Linked DNA regions of Homo sapiens: region 1 is reported to be linked to region 2. Evidence: microRNA targets listed by miRTarBase, many of them from high-throughput screens and not tested one by one. Region 2 holds a microRNA gene; the other region holds the end of a gene's coding sequence.
Evidence for each region. Region 2 holds the annotated microRNA hsa-miR-6855-5p (UUGGGGUUUGGGGUGCAGACAUUGC, at 3,043-3,067, opposite strand). A microRNA usually pairs through its seed, bases 2 to 8, with sites in the 3' UTR of a target mRNA and lowers its output. Matches are read on the target gene's strand: a 7mer-m8 pairs with bases 2 to 8, a 7mer-A1 pairs with bases 2 to 7 and ends in A, and an 8mer does both.

Region 1 (5,381 bases), not on the chromosome of region 2:
CAGGGAAATGCAAAATAAGAAAAGGTTCTTTTTCGCCCAACAGATAAAAACTATCAAGTGTAGGTATGGTTATATGGGGAAATGAACATTCTCCATACACTTGGTGAAAATACAGTTATGAAGGCCTTTGGGAAGACTGAAGGTGGACAGAGAACAAACCCTTTGATCCAAAAATCCACCTTACTGGACTCCAGACTAAAGAAATATTCACACACATGCACAAAGACATCTGAATAGGATGTTTACTTTGGCAATGTAATAGCGAGAGGAAAAAAATTAAGGGAATAAATAATGGCATTTTCATAGTATTTAATCATATTCAACCATTAAAGAAATTTAAAGACCTGTTATCTTTTTTTGAGACCAAAATTTTAAAAAGCTACAGAATATGAGATCCTATTTATGTAAAAAGTGTTTTTATGTGTATGTATATTCGTACGGAAAGGTGACTAGAGGATGTATGTTAAACTGTGGTAAGTGGAATGTGATTGGTAGCATTGGAGAAAAGGGTCTCTCTATTCAAAGAACTGTGTTTTTTATACAATGAGAAGGTAGTCATTAGACTTTCATAATTAAAAAAAGGAAAATGGGCAAAAGCAATTCATAATAGGAAATGCAAATGGCCAAGAAACATGAAAAGATGTTCCTCCTCATTAATATTCAAAGAAAAGAAAGAAATTTTGCCTACCAGATTGGCAAAAATTTTTAAGGATTCAGGGTTGGCAGACTATAGGCAAACAGGCATTCTTACTAATGATGGAGTTGTAAATTGGTGAAATCTTTTTGGTAGTAGTTTTCAAAACTGCAAATGTGAAACCTGATCCAATAAATTTCTAGTTATTCATCCTACAGAAATACCCACACAAGTAGCAAAATACATGTACAGGAATGTTAATTACACTTCTATCTATAATGAACCTAATTATCAATCCATAGGGGATTAAATAAATTACAGAATATTCATGCAATGGAATAGTATATAGTTATGAAAAAAGAACATCTTCAATGTGGGGGGAGAGGAGGCAAGTCTCAGTGTAGTGCATGTGAAATGGGGTTATGTCCTACTTTATACGGTAGCTGAGGATTAAGAGTTAATCCATGATAAAGCACTTCAAATAGTGCCTGTCACAGCAACCACAGGTGTCAGCTGTTAACACATTATTGATTAAATAAGTATATGCCTAAATCTGGAAGAACAAACGAAATTATCATGACTTCTCGGTAACACTGTGAAAGGAAATATCCTTTTTCATTTTACATTTCTGCACTGTAAAAAATTCAAACCAGCAATGTTTAATAGCTTTCACATTTGTTAACCATAAACACAAATTTATCAAGGTTTAATAGCCACCACCCATGGCATGGTGAATATGTCCCTGGAGTCTACAGAACCAGATTTGAATTTTATCTCTAGGCCACATGCAAGTCACATGATCTCTGAATCTTGCTTTCCTAGTCCACAAATCTAAGTGAGATAGGTACGGTGTCTAAGCCAATGCCTAGCATGCAGATTATTTCAGTACATGTAACCCTCCCTTCAATTTACATGAATATGAGACATATTGCTAAAGATCAAGTACCAACTGGGTATGACTACAGAGAGCTTAACCTCCAAGAAAGCCAGAAGAAAAAACCAGCAAATGCTCAGTGGCTACTGGGCAGATATCAGCAATCTGCATGACCTAAAATGACTGCTCATTTGCTAACCAAACAGATACTCTGGCGATGCCACTGCTTGGCACTGCCATATCACCACTTCATCAGAAGCTAGGCACTCCCCCAAATTTCTATGATTATCTGTGTGGGTAATGAATGTGTGGATGGAATTTAAAAATCACTACATAGTATTTAAAATCAATTTGTCTAGTGGGGACTAAGCCTAACCAGAGATAGAAAGTACACATCTCATCATTTCCTCTTCTTGTGTGCCACCATCCAGTTTTTTTTGGTCCAGTCCCTTTTTCCCACAGAGCTTTGCCTTAGCCTCAGAATCCTTTCTGAACAATGCAGATATTAGAGCTGCCAAGACAAAAACAGTATTTGCCAACCCTCATACTACTTTTTCTACACTCACATTACCAAATATCTTTGGCATTTATGACAAATCTACCACAGGGAAGCTTCCTTGTATATAGGAACCGCATACGATCTTAAAAAGCATGACATAATAGCCATTGAGAGGTTGCTCCCTTCTTACCTACTCTGATACAAGAATTCTGTCATTCCAGCCGTCTTCCAAATATGCCACCTGAAAACCTACTTGGAAAGAAGCCAGTTATAAATAAATAAATCACATCATTTATCTTAGAGCAGAGGAGTTTACAGCTTTATTGGACACTGACTTGTTTCCCCTCAGCCACAAAGAGAAAAAGACCCAAACAAAAGTCCCTACATTTTCTTGTATAACTTAAAATACATTATATCATTACTACATATTTATACTTCAATAAATCTTAATCTATAAAGCACATTTTTTATAATTGTTATCAGAAAACCTATAAACAAGCTCCATTCTGCCTCACTTTTCCACCAGCTGGCCTTGCATTTATTACTATGCTTTTTAATAGGCTCATGCAAAATCTCACCTTCCATTTTTAAACTTGATCCAAGCACCAGATATAACCAAAATCTCTGAACTAGGAAATATTTGTATTCACATGGGTCATTTTCCACACAATGATGCCCATTATAAAAAAGCCTCCTCTCATATTCTATATTTTAACTTCCAGAGTTTTCCACTAAACAGTAGAACCACAGTACTTGGAATTCTCAGCCAAGGAGTATATAATCCTACTACTACAATGTATTACTTTAATACATTTTAAAAAATGTGTTAAGACTGAAAATTAAAAAAAAATTCAATTGTGATAGGTTAATAAACTAGTTAATTGTCTAGTTGTTTATTTTTTAAATAGAACAGTCCATTCAACTTAATATGTAGGTACAACCTCAATGCTATTAGAGATTGATTAGTTCTTTAAAAAGATTCACAAACTTCCAAATTGTGGTAAGAGTATCGTGGACTCACCTCTGAACACTGGAGAGCCAGCTAGCTCTTTTGAGCCGAGTCCTCCTCCCCCTCCAAATACAACACCCTGGTAAAAAAAACTACAGTTCTGGGAACCTCACAGGTGACCTCCCCTGAGGAATGCTCAGACAAGGGGAAGAGGCTAACTCACATAAAACAGCAAACCCCTATGATTTACAGTGGAAGAAATACCTACCTACTTATGGTAGGATTACAGTACCTAGCACAGTGCCTTGTCGGTAGAAAATGTTTAATAATAAATGCATGGCTGCTTTTTTAGCCTGACGTTCAACCCTTTTGTACCAAAGGAATAAAAAATAGGTAACCTGATACTTGCCCACCTGTCAGGGAATTTTCTGTCCTTAACAAAGATGAAGGCAAAATAATGATGAACTCTATCATCTTTTTCTAAAAGCCATGACAGACCATTACCCTTATGTTTACATTTGCCTTCAACACTGCCATCCGCTACAAATTTTTCCCTAGTGTTATAATTTCTACCTTCATTATTTTACAACTGTTTATTATTTAGACTGTATGCTTTTTAATAATATATGGGAAAACATTATTTTCATTAGTAAGATGACTCCAAATTATAGAGAGGATGAGTAGCTTTTGAATTTTCCTGCAGGCAAAATATAAATTCTTGATACATTTCAATTCTTAGATCAAAGTATTTGCATATCTTCCCCAATCAAGGTGTTCCATTCACTTTTTGATGTTTTATCACCATCACTTCTTATCTGAGATCTTATGGTTCATTTTGAGGCTCTTAGCCATCCTTTATCCTCTTATTTTCTCAAATGCATATTCAAATTAGGTAAAAGGAAATAAGGGTAAATTTTTAAAAGATGGTTTAAAATGGTTTTCAGACTTTGTAATTCCTGTTGCCTTTTAATATATAAGGGAATGTATCCATATAAAGAACATTTCAATGATCAATGCAGAAATAATGTATTTGTCTTAAAAAAGAAACTTTCAAGAAAGGGACAATGAATCAGGTAGTTCATTATTTGGAGAAGTAATACAGACTATAAACATCACATGGAAAATTTAGGCATTAAGACCTGAATTAAGTTTAAAATTTCAGTTTCTAGGCAGGTATGACACCATTTCTTTCAAGATAAATATCATAATGGTGAGTGAAGATTTTTACATTTCCCAGTGGATTTTCTGACAGTCAATAGGGAAAAAACTATTCTGCATCATTTCATATTTTAAATTTTGTCTTCATTTCTGAAGAAAAAGACCTGAGTGCTGATTCTTTTTTTTTTTTCAATTTCTTAAACTTTCACAACATTCAGAAGTTTTTCTGCATTGTGTCTTCTCTGATGTCTAAAAAGATTTGAGCTTTGACTATACGATTTCCCACACTGAACGCATTCATAAGGTTTCTCCCCAGTATGGATTCTCTGATGATTAATAAGCCCCGAATTCTGGCTAAAGGCTTTCCCACATTCAAGACATTTGTAAGGTTTTTCTCCAGTGTGGACTCTCTGGTGTTGCACAAGAATGGAACTTCGGCTGAATGCTTTCCCACACTCAACACATCCATAAGGTTTCTCCCCACTGTGAATTCTTTGATGAAGAATAAGGGCTGAGCCCTGACTGAAGTGTTTTCCACATTCATCACATATATGTTGTTTCTTTCGAGAGGGATTTCTCTTTCTTTCAAACCTGCCCTTGGGGAAACAGGTTTCTCCATATTTAAAAATTTGAGGAACACCCATATTGAGAGTGCCAGGAACTTCATGGGATTCTAATGCTGAAGGAAGCTCCTGCTTTGGAGCTAGTGCTCCATTTTCAGTCCTACCATCATCATCTGAAATAAACAGAAAATGTAAATATCATTCATTATCTATTAAGGGAAAAGAAACCTAAAAAAAATTTTTTTTTTAATGAACTAAAATAGCTAGCACACATCTATAAACCACTCTGACACTGGTGTTAAGGCCTATTCTCAAAAAAGAAAAAATGAAATTACTCTGAATAACAGTATAACATCATGATATAAGGGATATCTGAATAAAACATAGGCAAGTGGTTTACAAATGGTAGTCAGAAAACAAAGGTCAGAAAGATGGTAGATTCTAAGATGGTTAGGGAGATAGTCAAAATGATGTGGCTAGGTATGGATGAAACTTTGTAAGAATAAAAATAAAATAAAATTGGCCACTAGGAAATCATTATAATGTTCTTTTACTTTGAGAAAGGGAGAAATTACATCAAAATACAAAGATGTAAATTAGAAAAACATGTCAGAAAGTGGCTATTTCTGAAATGAACAAGCCAAGTCAGGTCACAGCCAATGTTAGCCTAAAAGCAGAACACAGGAGTCTTGACAAGAAGGGGC
Region 2 (5,381 bases):
TCAAAGATCTCAATATAAGACCTAAAACTATAAAACTTTTAGGAGAAAAGTAGGAAAAAAGTTTCATGACATTGGATCTGGCGATGATCTCTGAAACACAACACCAAAGGTGCAGGCAACCAAAGCAAAAGACACAAACCACAGAATGAAACGCACCCTACAGGATGGGAGGACAGGGTTATAAGTCACGTATCTGGACACATAAAGAACTCCTCTAACTAACGAGGCCGGCACCGTGGCTCACACCTGTAATCCCAGCACTTTGGGAGGCCAAGGCAGCAAATCCATTTGAGGTCAGGAGTTCGAGACCAACCTGGCCAACATGGCAAAACCCCATCTCTACTAACAATACAAAAATTAGCCAGGTGTGGTGGCACGTGCCTATAATCCCAGCTACTCGGGAGGCTGAGATGGGAGGACTGCTTGCACCCAGGAGGCGGAGGCTGCAGTGAGCCAAGATCATGCCATTGCACTCCAGCCTGGGTGACAGAGTGAGACTCTGTCTCAAGAAAAAAAAGAATCCCTATAACAAGCAACAAAAAACAAAATAGGCAAAAGACTCACATAGATGTTTTTCCAAACACTTACAAATGGCCAACAAGCATATGAAAAGACACTTAACATCACTATCATTAGGAAATGCAAATCAAAACCACAACGAGGCTGGGTGCGGTGGCTCACGCCGGTAATCCCAGCACTTTGGGAGACCAAGGCAGGCGGATCACCTGAGGTCAGGAGTTCAAGACCAGCCTGGCCAACATGGTGAAACCCCATTCTACTAAAAATACAAAAATTAGCCAGCCGTGGTGGCATGTGCCTGTAATCCCAGCTACTCGGGAGGCTGAGGCAGGAGAATCGCTTAAACCCAGGAGGTGGAGGTTGCAATAAGCCGAGATCATGCCATTGCACTCCAGCCTGGGCGTCAAGAGAGAGACTCCGTCTCAAAAACAAAACAAAACAAAACAAAAAAAACGCACAATGAGATACCACCTCATACCCATGAGGTTGACTCCCATCAAAAAAGTAAACAAAATGAGTGTGGACGACGATGTGGAGAAACTGGAACTCTTGTGCGTCACTGGTGGGAATGTGAAATGGGGTGGCCACTGTGGAACCCAGTACGGTGGCTCCTCGAGAAATTAAAAATAGGCATAGACCCAAAGGGATGAAAGAAGAGAGGTGTGCACACCCATGGTCAGAGCAGCATTCCTCACAATAGCTAACAGGGAAGCGGCCTGAGTGTCCACTGACGGATGAACGAATAAGCAGAAAGGCCCCAGCCATCCACACAATGGAACAATAAATAACCAGCATACAAAAGGCAGGGCATTCCGACACACACGCTGCAACGTGGATGAACCCTAAGGACGTTATGCTCAGTAAAAGCCGTCAGTCACAAAATGGCAAGTACTGTATAATTCCACTTCTATGAGGCCTTTAGAGTAGTCACATTCACAGACTTGAATGTGGAGGTTGCCAGGGGCTGGGAGGTGGGAGTAGGGAGCTGTTTCACGGATACTGAGTTTCAGGTTTGCAAGATGTAAAAGTTCTGGAGATGAATGGGGAGGATGGCTGCGTGACCATGTGCATGTATTTAACACTACTCGACTGTGCACTTTCTGTTAAAAACAGCATTTACAATGGTTATGGTGGTAAATTTTACATTTTGTGTATTTTATCGCAATTGAAAATTGGAAATAAAAAAAAAAGAGAGAGTTTTCCCAAAGGTTTAGATGCCAAATAGCCAACGGAGAAAAAGAACAAGAACAGGAATGGGCAATGTTTAAATAAATACATAGAGCCAGTATATTTAACAAAAAATGTAGAAACTCATCAGTAATCAAGGAAATGAAAAATTAACATACATCATTTTTGCCCACCAAATTGGTAAAAATAAAAATAAGTGAACACTCAAGAGCTGCAAGATGATGGGGTTGGGATAGCACATGGCCCTGGTCCAGCGTGGCTGGCAGTGGGCGTGGGTATCTGATGGGATCAACCTTGGAAGCCAAGTCTAGCCTGGCTGTGCATCCCACAAGCCCTGGGCTGCATGCTGGCCTGCTGGGGTCTGCACATCCCCGTCCCCACAACCCTCCACCTCCCCGACCCTTGCCAGCCAGGCCCCTCACCCTTTAACTCATCAGCGGCAAAGAAGGCAGCAAGGCAGTCTTCCAGGGTGACGACAGGCCCCCAAAACCAGCTGGGGGTACAGGATACCACAAACCTACAGACAGAAAAGGAGTGCAGGGGTGCTGCCAGGGCCTGGGCAAGAACAGGAGCTGAAGGGACTCTGGCTGAGGTCTGTCAGGCCTGAGCCGCAGAAGGACCCTGAAGGCCCAGAGAAGCAGCCGGGCACGGCGGGTCGGGGCAGAGGCCTGGAGCCAGACACGTCCGTGTCCTGGGCCGAGTGACATCATCTCTCCGCAAGCCTGGCCTCCTTCATCTGTGTTGCGGCCATGATCATGCTACCCCCTCCCTGGGGTCATGCGGGTCTCTGGCCTCAGGCAGGAGAGGCAGCCCTGGGAAAGCTGCTGCCCTTCCCGCCAACCAGGCCTGTGTCCTGCTGCTGCCCTCCCTTCAACCTGCCATGTGGTCACCTCCCTGCTGTCCATCGCCCTCCAGCTCCAAGGGACTATCCAATCCTGGCCACTTCAAAGTAGCCAAGAAATCCCCTGCATATTAAGCCAACTCCTCTGCAGGCTTCGGCCCCCAGCTCCTCCCAGGACCTCCCTGGTTCCCCAAATGCATGGACTTCACTGTGTACTGTCTCCCGCCCAGGAAAACCAGGACAGGCCCAGCCCATGTCGCCCAGTAGTGGCAAGGTGGGCGCACCGTCGGATGTACTCCACAATGAAGGCCAGCCAGCCCTGGGCGGCATAGCTGTCCCCACAGGCGCCTGGCTTGGCCGGCACATTCTGGTAGATGGCTGAATGGAGCTTGGCCAGGTCCTCCTTTCCAGGAATGGGCAGTGATAAGTCCTGGAACGTTTCCACTGTGGTGGATACCTGTGGGGTTGAAGGTCAGTCTGCTGCCCATCCTCTGGCAATGTCTGCACCCCAAACCCCAAGCAGCAGGTGAGGGGCAGAGGGACTACTCCCCAGGCCATAGACACGGGATCCACGCAGGCAGGGCCCTCCCCTGGATAAAAGCAGGGAGCACCCGTGGAGAGCCCACCCTGCACCCAGTCAGGGCAAGAGCTGCTGAGGCCACTGGCAGCCTGGCCCAGCTCCCCCCATCCCTGGGGCACCCACCCGGTCACAGGTGAGACACTGCACAAGGCTGAGAATGGAGCCGTCAAAGATGTCTGAGATGACGCTGCGGTAGCGCTGCTCCTTCCGCCTCCGGCTGCCAGCACTCAATACCTGGGCTGGGGACACAGCACAGGACTAGCCCAGCCTCCACCTGCCTGGCCGGGGCGAGGTGCGGGCCCTGCGGCTTCCTTTGACAGGATGTGGAGTGACATCCGTGAGTCACATGACTGGGTAAGCAATTCACCATCTCATGCCTCTGTGTCATCCTCTGCAAAACGTGGCTCCCACACTGGTGTCTCAGGGGTGTACCTGAGAGGAGCCCATAGCCCGGCCCTCCGCCACAGGGGGCCATGAGAAAGGCAGCTACGGGCGTAATCTGTACTCCCAGCCTCAAGCTGACCCACCCTCCCGTGCCCCCCGAACCTTTCTTGAGCACGTACGACGGTGCCATCCTCACGGGGCTTGCACGAGGGGGGCTGCTAGACAGCTTGGCATGGCCCTCGTGGTGGTGGACGGGGCTGCAGGGGCGAGAGGAGCTGCGTAGGTGAGCATCATTGTCCGGCTCTGGGGGCAGAGAGGGTACCATGCTGGGCCAGGGCAGCCAGGCCAGCTCCACGAGTGGGCAGGAAGATGACCTGCCAGCCCCTCCTAAAGGGACGAAAGCCTGACCCTAATGTGTCTCCTCTGTCATGTGCCCACTCCTGGCCCCAGCACACAGGCCGGAGCAGACCTGTCCAATCCATGTCCGGCTGGAAGGCTCAGGGCTCTGGGAGAGGGCTCTGAATTGGGCTCCAGCATTATGAGCTAGGGGACCCTGGGCACATCACTGAGCCCCCCCGGAGGCTGACTTCCCCACTGTCATTCGGGTCTAGTGAAGAACCCGTCCCCCGGGGGCTACTGCAGGTCGGCGCTCAGCACCCGGTAGGTACTGGGCCATAGGCTGAGGTTCCTCCCGCAGTCCCCGGCCAGCTGATACCTGGCGTCCGGCAGGGGCTGGAGGACCGTGGTGACGGGGGCTGGGCCTCCGCGGGCTGGTCGTCAAGGGCAGCCATGGCAGTGTCCACATCAGCGTCCTCGTCCACTTGCTCCGAGTTTGTACGCTGCTGGCCCCAGGAGAACTTGCGGTCCTTCATCCGCTCCTTCTCAGAGATGGCTCGGCCCGCCTCATCTGGGATCAGCAGCTCCGTCTCGGCCTGCGAGCTGCCCCCGCCACGCCCCTGCCCGTCACCCTCACCCCGGTCACTGCTCGAGTCACAGGACAAGAACTCATCTTCTGATGGGCTCCGGTCACCCTCCCGTTTCTCATCCGTGTCACTCGAATCTGAGTCCCGAGCCTCCGTCAGCGCCACCGTGGCCACCACCGGCTCCTTGAGCTCCTCGTGCAGCTGGTCCATCAGGCAGCGAAGGAACTCTTGGGTGTCCTAGAACCAGGGGCTGCATCAACAGGGCTCCCCTGGAGGCAGGAGGAACCAGTCTCCAGCGCCCTGTGGCTGATGAGAGCGCCAGCCTCCATCTAGGAGGACCTCATGGGCGCCCCCTGCAGAAGAGTTGCTCACCCCCACAGCGGCCTCCCATGGCAGTCTGTCCTAACCCCATTCTTCTGAGGATAACAGTGAGGACTGGAGAGGCTAAAGGACACCTACCAGGACACACAGCTAGAAAGTGTCAGAGCCAGGTATGCACCTGGGTCCATGCAACTCCCCGGCTCCGGCTCTGAATCTCCTGCCTCTGCTGCAAGCTCAGCACGGGAGGGACAGAGAGGCAGTACCACATTAAGCCCGAGCCACCTTTCTCCCTACAGATGAGACCAGTGGAGGTGGGCAGGGGGGTGGCGGAAGGATGAGGGAGTGTGATGCCAAAAGAGGACTCACCCGAGTCCTGCCCCAAGCCACGCTACCCACAGGCCAGACTGCCTGCATGCTCTACCCTTCCTCTGGCTCCCCCTGCTCCCTCAGTCCCTGTGCCAGCCCCCACATACCCTCACTGCCTGCTCTCACCTTCCCACAGACCTGGTCATGACTCAGTCTAAGCTGCCCCTGCAGGCTGCCTGGGTCTCAAATCCCAGCAATGACCATTTTATCCTGACCACTCTGTGACTGGGCCACCAGCACAGCAGGAAGCCAAGGCAGC

Region 1: the mRNA of ZNF24 is a reported target of hsa-miR-6855-5p. Seed matches in the 3' UTR shown: 7mer-m8 at 1,050-1,056.

Annotation. Positions count from the first base shown.
Region 1 is chr18:35,332,921-35,338,301 of GRCh38, forward strand. ZNF24 (zinc finger protein 24) reads right to left here. Exons shown (of 4, transcript NM_006965.4): 4 at 1-4,850. The coding sequence ends at 4,312. Among named protein-coding and RNA genes, the nearest start is that of ZNF24, 8.8 kb to the right of the region's middle.
Region 2 is chr9:129,867,296-129,872,676 of GRCh38, reverse strand. It overlaps MIR6855 (microRNA 6855), which reads right to left and starts at 3,072; the gene lies at 3,006-3,072. It overlaps USP20 (ubiquitin specific peptidase 20), which reads right to left. Exons shown (of 26, transcript NM_001110303.4): 11 at 4,228-4,672; 12 at 3,675-3,815; 13 at 3,252-3,367; 14 at 2,833-3,005; 15 at 2,130-2,224. RefSeq lists an enhancer at 1,958-2,457.